Regions from separate parts of the Homo sapiens genome. Here all the other regions are linked to region 1. Evidence: fine-mapped expression QTL. A gene starts in region 1. Each other region holds a variant in brackets. All regions are shown on one strand. Distances are from middle to middle. Region 1 holds the start of NCR3LG1 (natural killer cell cytotoxicity receptor 3 ligand 1). Region 2 overlaps KCNJ11 (potassium inwardly rectifying channel subfamily J member 11). Region 3 overlaps NCR3LG1 (natural killer cell cytotoxicity receptor 3 ligand 1).

Region 1 (2,651 bases):
GCTGCCGCCAAGGTCTCCACGGTGAGGTCCACACGCGGCTCTCCTCCACCTGCAGTGACTCGGGGCGCCCAGAGCGCGCCTCCGGGATTCCTACATTCCACCTCCACCACCCGGCACCCAGGAGCGTATTTTGGCCAGCCTAGTAAGGGTCAAGCAGCATCTTGTTGTTTAATTGCCATTCTTCTAGTTAGAAATGAGTTTAAATATCTCTACATACGCGTTTCAGCCTTTTAGTCTCCTGTTTAAGTTAACGCAGAACACGCCCATACGAGTTCCCAAAAAAGCAAGAGAACGTTTGAAGGTCACCACAAGATCAAAACACTCCCCTCCCTCTCTCAGTAAAGACCTAACTTAGCAAAGCCAGGAGGACCCACTGATATGCGGATGAATGATTTTTCCAATTTACCGATTCCCTGATTTTCTTCTCTCCTCCGGCCCCTCGGATGATGCGAGAGAGGCGCCAAATACCGAGGCACCAAACGCGCGACATCCAAGGAAGCACCGTTTCCGCTCTCACAGGTGTCGACCCTGCACAGGGCAGGCCTTCAATGTAAACCTGTTGCATCGGGGACTCCGCTTCTCACAAAGGAGGGACGCTTGAAAATAGAGCCCCCAGGCCGGGCGCGGGGGCTCACGCCTGTAATCCCCGCACTTTGGGAGGCCGAGGCGGCTGGATCACTAGGTCAAGGAGACCATCTTGGCTAACACTGTGAAACCCCGTCTCTACTAAAAGTACAAAAAATTAGCCGGGCATGGTGGCGGGCGCCTGTGGTCCCAGCTACTCGGGAGTCTGAGGCAGGAGAATGGCGTGAACCTGGGAGGCGGAGCTTGCAGTGAGCCGAGATCGCGCCACTTCACTCCAGCCTGGGAGACAGAGCGAGACTCCGTCTCAAAAAAAAAAAAAAAAAAAAAGGAGAAGAAATAGAAAAGAAAATAGAGCTCTCAGCCCCCAGGAAGTTGAGGTCCCCTGGCGGGATGCTAGGGAGCCGACCCGCGAGGACCCTCTGGCGCCAGGAGCCCCCGCCCCAGCCCACCCCAGCCGCCCCCTACCTTCGGTCGTCAGCGCCCACAGCAGAATCAGGAGCGCCGCGCACGTGGAGGCGGCAGCCCTCCACGTCATCGCCGCGGCTGCTGTTGTGTAATTTTTTTCGCCGAGTGGGAGCAGGCGGCCCGGTAGAAACCAAGGGCAGGGGGAGACCTCTGTTGCGTAAAGAGTTGACGGAGACACAGCCGGGATTTCCAGCCGGCGCTTTTGCACATCCCACTTCTTCAGATCCCTTCGGCAACTGCGAAGTCGCCTGGATTTCCCAGGTTCGCACTGCAGGAAGCCAGGCGCGTGACCAGCCCCACCCGCGCCGCACTTTAGCCCGGGGGCGGGCACCGGCCGGGGAATCCTCCCTCGCCTCCGCCCGCGGCACGAGGTTGCGCGGTTACAGCCCCGGTGCCTCTCGCGAGCGGCTCTGCGGTCCAGGACTCGGGGCATCCTCTGGGTTCGCTTAGTAAATTGAGACCGGGATCCAAGTGGCCCGGGGCGCTGCTCTAAGGAAGATGCTGACCGCAGTCGGTGATTGCGAGAGCAGGTGCACGCGTCCAGAGCGACATCTTACCGTTGGCGCGATAAACTTACATTACTTTAAAAACCAAAAACAACAAAAATTTAGCATTAAGTCGAAAGGCAAATTAAATCCCCAGGACAATTCAGTTAAACGCCTGAAGGTGGCCCTTAATTTCCCATTTCTACTAATCAAGAAGTGGCTTGCGACCTCCTGAAGCAAACCCAAATATTCTCATTCGGTGATTAAGTTTTACCACCTCTACACCAGTTTTTAAATCAATTTAACCGCAAAGTTCAGAACCCAAGTGGCACAGTAAATGTGTGTGCATTTATAACGCAGAACCTGCATTCTTTCCCCAGCAACCTGCATTCCATTTGTCTCATTGACCCTACTGCATTTTTCCTTCGCATCATTAAAAAGGATGTAATGTACAGAAAAGCACAGACAGACCTAAACTCCAATGCCAACCATGCCATCTGCTGATTATAAGACAGTGGGTAAGTGACCTCATATCCCCAGCCTGTTCACATGTCTCTAAAACTGAGAGAGTAAAAGCTTCCTTTCCAGGGTTAGAGACACTGTCACTGACTAAGCAAATAGTCACATTCTCACTTATCTGCAGAACAGAGTGCATACAGAAAGAGCTCAGAAGTGAAAGATGCGCAGAGTGCCCACAGTGGCAGCAACTAGCTGAGGGGCCTTCAGATCGCAGCCTTCCGGACCACCGTTATAACAGGTAGAGATATGCAAGGTTAAGTCCAGCTATTGAATTTTTAAAACCTAAATTACACCTCTTCTCAACCTCTGCCTCCTCCAAGGAGCCTTACCTGAGGAGACATCCTTGTCTGGTATTAGTGACATCATTAAATAACATTCCCAATGGAGGTATATGACGACTTCTTATACATGCCCAGAATAGTGATTCACAAAGTTGTGACACATACACATCACCCTGTAGAAATTATCAAATTACTCTTTTGGTAATTTTTACTGTTTTGGTAATTTTTTTGTACCCTTTTTACTCTAAAGGGTAAAACCGGCAGGTTTCTCTATTTATATTTCATTAGAATGAAAAGTCATTACCTGTGTTTTCGT
Region 2 (2,651 bases), 32 kb before region 1:
ATAAATGTTAACTATTGTGATTGCTGCTGAATCAGCTACATGCTGAGGAAACGGCCAAACAAGTGTTAAAGAGAGACGGTGCTTTTATTTTGCCCTTGGTCATGTTTCTTTGCCAGGTCTTTCTTTCCACACGGTGTCCCCTCCTAGCTGAGACCACGATTTTAGGGGCTGTGGCAATGCCTGTGACCTGGTCCCCTTGTCTCCATCTCACCCACTGTAGTCCATCTGCCACACAGCCTCCAGGGTGGTCTTAGAAGGGTGGGTCACCCCCCACCCTCATCATGAAATACCTTCGGTAGTTCCCCATCACCTCTGGGTCAAGGCTAGCTTCTTAGCAGCCATTTCAGGCTGTGACTGCCTCTCCGGCCTTATGGCCCACTGTTTTCTTGCCAGGAGTCTGCACTTGCCCACCCACTTCCCTAGGTACCTCGCTGTCCTATCCCTCCTGACACATAATGTTGAGCTTCCTACCTCCCAGACCTTGCTTATGTTACTCCCTTGGCCTGGACTGCCCAGGCCTCATCTCTGTCTGTTGAAATCCATAAAAATCCAGGCTGAGTGATGCCTCCTCGAAACCTTCCCTGATTTCTCTGGAAAAGGAAGGTCCCTTCCCTCTGCTGTGCTGTGGGCATTCTCCTTTTGCCTACGTTTAGGGGTCTGTCTCCCCATCCACAAGTCCATGGCTTCCTGAGGTCAGGGACTGTGACTCAGCACTGTGGCTGGCTTACATGGAGTAGGTGCTACATGAATGAACAAATGAATGAATGAATAACGGATGGATGGCGTACAGGACAAAAAGCCAGGGTTATTGCTACAGTGTGAGGCCTGCAGACAGGGCATCAGTGAGGGTCTGTCTCAGGCGGCTCCAGAGGCAGGGCCAAGGGGCCAGGAAGTTGCCGCTGCTGGTCTGAGCTCTAAGCTGCCCTCTCCCAGCACCCATGCAGTCCCCAGCGCTGATTCCCTTCCTTGCAGAGCTGACCCATTTCTGGTTTTGAGGGTGAAGGGGTGAAAGCTACTCAGAGTCAGCCCAGGATCCTAGGAGGCTGGCTCTTGCGACTCAGCTTGGCTGCCATTAAGGCCAAGGAGAAAGGCCAGACTCACTAAGGACCTGCTGGCAGTACCATCCTTGGAGCCCAAACCAGAGTAACCTTCCTCCACCCCTCAGGGACCTTAAGCTGCTGGTGAGTGTGAAGCCCACAGAACTGAGGGCTTAGCGCCACCTGCTGGCCACAGAGAAGACTTACTTCGGCAGAGAAAAATCAGGACCACTGGTCCTAGGTTTTCCACCAACTCTGAGGGAGACCCCCAGCCTTAAGGCATAACCCAGGGAGGGGCTGGAAAGCTCCAGGCATAGAGAGGCAGTTCGACCAAGCCTCCCTCCTCCGCGAAGGTGTTCTTGCCCACTGATGGTGCTACCTCCATCTGGGGGCACCCTTTCTCTATGGCACTGGCCTCAACTGGACAAAGAAGTTCACCTGAGCACTACTCAGCCCAGCAGGAACTTCTGTGATAATTTTGTTTGTGATATTCTGCCTCCAGGATTGCATCCCTTAGTCATCATGTGACAGCAGAGGAAGCAGTCTGGCCCATCCACACGCTATGTGCAGAGCTGTCTCAACTCCAGGGCCCCTGAAAAGGAGAAGGGAAGTACCATGT[A/G]TCACTGTGGCCCAGCAGGACTATGAGAGAAGCACTGTTCTTCTTTGAGTTTGTAGATGAGGACACAGGGTCAGAAAGGGTGGTGTCTTAGACCATTCAGGCTTCTATAACAAAATACCATAGACTGGGTGGCTTATAAACAATAGACATTTATTACTCACAGTCTGGAGGCTAGGAAGTCCAAGATCAAGGTGCCAGTGGATTCAGTGTCTGCTGAAGGGCCTGTCTTTCCCCTGTAATCTTACATGGTGGAAGGTGTGAGGGAGCTCTCTGGGGCCTTGTTACATAAGGGTACTAATCCCATTCATGAGGATTCCACCCTCATCACCTCCCAAAGGCCCCGCTTCCAAATACCATCACCTTGGGCATCAGGATTTAACATGTGCATTTTAGGGGGACACAGACATTTAGCCTATAGCAGGAAGTAATTTGCTAAGATCTCACAGCTAGTAGGAGGCAGGTCCAAGATTTCAGCCAAAGTCTGTCTAATGCCACAGCCCTGCTCTTCCCTCCCCCTCTTTCCCCTAGCACACAGTCCCAGTGACCTAAGCTCCAGCTTTTAGTAGGGCTGCACCTTGTTCTAAGTGTCACATTCACCACAGGGAGAAAGTTGTCTCCAAACCAAGGGAAAGAGGGAAGGTGGAACTCAGCAAGCCCCTGGGCCTCCCTGAGATCCCAGATTGGAAACTGGCAGCAGGCTTGGCTGTTTTGTGACAGCCTAGATTATGTCCAGAACACCTATGGAGTCAGAACAACCTCACTGGCACTTTTTCTGGCCCACGTGCATGATGAGCCCTCCATCTTCTTCCTTCTTACAGGAAGACTGGGCTCTTTGCTTTACAGGCTCTTCTTCCAGCCAGTCAGGTGTCAATGCAGCCTGATTGGGCACATCTGCCACCCATCTGTCCCCAACTCATATCAATGGTGTGAGACATGTCCTGGGCCTCAGTCCTGAGCTTCAGAGGGAAGGCAAGCCAGGCCACCCTCTTCCTGTG
Region 3 (2,651 bases), 27 kb before region 1:
GGCTACCACACTTCTTTTGGTCAAAGCTCAGCTTCCTGAGGAGTTGTAGCACTTAGCTTATGCTGTGTAACAAAGCCAGTATAAAACAGTGGCTTTAAAAAACATTTTAAATATTAATGTAATATTTAAAATGTTTTACATATTAAAAGTATTTTCCAAGTATTTGAGAGTTGGCTCTGCCAGCTCTGCTGATCTCAGATTTGCTCACATGGAGTCAGGTGGCTGTCATCTAATCTAGCCTGGCCTCCACTGGAGCAACAAGGATGTGGTAGCCAGCATCTCTCATCCTCCAGCAGGCTAGTCTCGACCTGTTCTTCTCCCAGCACCATTAGAAGCACACGAGGAAGCAAATGAAGACACACAAGACCTCTTGGGGCTTACACTTGGAACTGGCACGCCTTCACTGCTGTCTTCTTAAGTTGGCTGAAAGAGGTCACACAGTTAGAGGCACTACAAAGTTACACAGCAATGGACATGGATTCAGGGAAGGGTGTAGGATTGGAGTCATCTTTGCAAACAACTAAAGGATCCAGCTGATCATAAAGGGTTTGTTTTCTTTTTCCATAAGCATCATTGCTGATGTTGGGGTTATCAGCAATAAACTGATAGTTTTACAGTCTCACCAATGCACCACAATGTAGCAGTCTCTCATTGCCCAAGGTATCACCTGAAGTTCTTTGTCTCATAACCAAGAAAATTAAGGAGCATGGACCCCAAAGGTGAGGTTGGAGCAAAAATTTAAAAAGTGAAAAAAGAAAGCTCCCCACTGCCAAGAGGGGGCCCAAAAGAGTGTCGCCATTTCACAGTTGAATACAGAGGCTTTTGTAAGAAATTGATGAGTGCTGGGCATCTCATTTGCATAAAGCATGAATTTCTGGTAGTTCTACCCTATCCTCCCAGTGTGCATGCAGGCCCTTAGCTTGAGTTACTCCATATGGCTTTGTTCCCCTTACTGCGCATGTCTCAGGGAATGGAATTTTCCATTGTGGGCATCTCTGGGCAAGTCTCCTGTGTAGTCTTTCTTACCTAGGCAGCTGTGGACATGTCTAAGGCAAGCCTCCCTGTACAAGTTCTCTTCTCTGTGCCTGCAGTTTGATTTTTCAAGCTGTTCTTTTGTTTGGAAGAATTTTACC[G/A]AGGACCCACCCTAACTGCCTGTCTGACTGGTTTCTTCCTTCCTCCTTTCTCATTCCCTGCTTCAGGAGTGGAGACCCCAACTGCTGTTGGGGAAAGTGGACGATGACCACTCCTGGCTGCTTCCTGCTGGAAGGGGGCGTCGTTGGGGTTACAGCAGTTAGGGCTCCTCCTGAGATTGGTCTAAGGGTCCCCAGAAGAATGGCGTGTCTATGTGTGGTTCTATCTGCAGCACCATTTGGAGTTTAATAGCCTCTAAGTGAGAGGAAACAATTTGAGTTACAGTATTGAATATACAAAGTCCAAACATTAGTACAAAACACACGAGCAAAAGGGGGCCTAATAAAGGAGCTAACCAGTTCCACAAAGAAGACTGGAATCCATTTAAGAGGGATTGTAGCCAACTGGGACTGGAGCCCGCATTCTCTCTTAATCTGTCAATGTTCTAATTTGATCTTTAAGCACCTGTACATTCTCTTCTACTTGACTAGAGGTATTGATCTAGAAGTGACATGCTTCTTTTTAAAAGTGCACAGGTACCCCCTACTTTGGCCATAAGGATATCTAGGGCCTGTCTATTTTGCATAACTACTGAGGCTAAAGAGTTTATGAATTGTTGTTGTGCTTCTATGGCTCCTACTGTTAGCTTCTACCCTTGTGGCATCATAATAGAAATATTAAGTACTGATTTTTCAAGGAGAGGAATACCAGCAAACCAGAATAGGCCTCTGACTATAGAATCCCCTATCCATGGTTTTTCTGAGATAGGATTGTCATGTGCAGGTCCTACCCAATCTTCTCTTTCAGTTAAGTCTCCATATGAGGGCATGGAAATGATAGACCTCTTTGTTCAGCGCATCTGAGATAGCACACTCACTAGAAAAGACGCTAGGCTAGGGATGTCCCCAGATGATGCTGCCATATCAGTGGAATTTAAAGATAACAGGTCAGGAACCACTGCCACGATAGTGCAGGTTCCCTTCCAGTGCCTAGGGAGGATTAAGTGTAGCCAGGAGCCACAAAGGAAATAAAGCCCTGTCCCCTGAAGGGCCAGTTCTAAGTTGTAGCTTGTGAGAGACACAGGCAGATCTTTCTCATATCTTAGAAGCTTCCCCCTCCTGCATGTAATAGGAACATCTTTGGGATGGGGATATCTATACTCAGGATAGTCACTCACGATGCCATTTGGAATTTTACATGCTAAATGAGAAAGGTCCACCTGATAAATTGAGTTTTGTTTGTTTGTTTGTTTTTTGAGATGGAGACTTACTCTGTTGCCCAGGCTAGAGTGCAGTGGCACAATCTTGGCTTTCTGCAACTTCTGCTTCCCGGGTTCACGCAATTCTCCTGCCTCAGCCTCCCGAGTAGCTGGGACTACAGGCATGCACCACCACGCCTGGCTTTTTTTTTTTTTTTTTTTGTATTATTAGTACAGACGGGGTTTCACCATATTGTCCAGGCTAGTCTTGAACTCCTGACCTCATCATCTACCTGCCTCAGCCTCCCAAAGTGCTGGGATT

The links.
Region 2: its variant is fine-mapped to the expression of NCR3LG1 in monocytes (Quach 2016, PIP 0.95).
Region 3: its variant is fine-mapped to the expression of NCR3LG1 in esophagus mucosa (GTEx, PIP above 0.99).

What each region holds. Positions count from the first base shown.
Region 1 is chr11:17,350,439-17,353,089 of GRCh38, reverse strand. It overlaps NCR3LG1 (natural killer cell cytotoxicity receptor 3 ligand 1), which reads right to left and starts at 1,290. Exons shown (of 5, transcript NM_001202439.3): 1 at 1,051-1,290. The coding sequence starts at 1,120. LOC105376576 (a long non-coding RNA gene) reads left to right here and starts at 1,224. Exons shown (of 3, transcript XR_931094.3): 1 at 1,224-1,311; 2 at 1,916-2,053; 3 at 2,179-2,277. RefSeq lists enhancers at 149-750, 751-1,352 and a silencer at 1,349-1,468.
Region 2 is chr11:17,382,667-17,385,317 of GRCh38, reverse strand. It overlaps KCNJ11 (potassium inwardly rectifying channel subfamily J member 11), which reads left to right. Exons shown (of 1, transcript NM_000525.4): 1 at 1-70. Among named protein-coding and RNA genes, the nearest start is that of KCNJ11, 4.7 kb to the left of the region's middle. The variant A/G (reference allele first, on the strand shown) is at 1,657.
Region 3 is chr11:17,377,223-17,379,873 of GRCh38, reverse strand. NCR3LG1 (natural killer cell cytotoxicity receptor 3 ligand 1) reads right to left here. Exons shown (of 5, transcript NM_001202439.3): 5 at 2,533-2,651. Among named protein-coding and RNA genes, the nearest start is that of KCNJ11, 10 kb to the left of the region's middle. RefSeq lists an enhancer at 490-1,689. The variant G/A (reference allele first, on the strand shown) is at 1,134.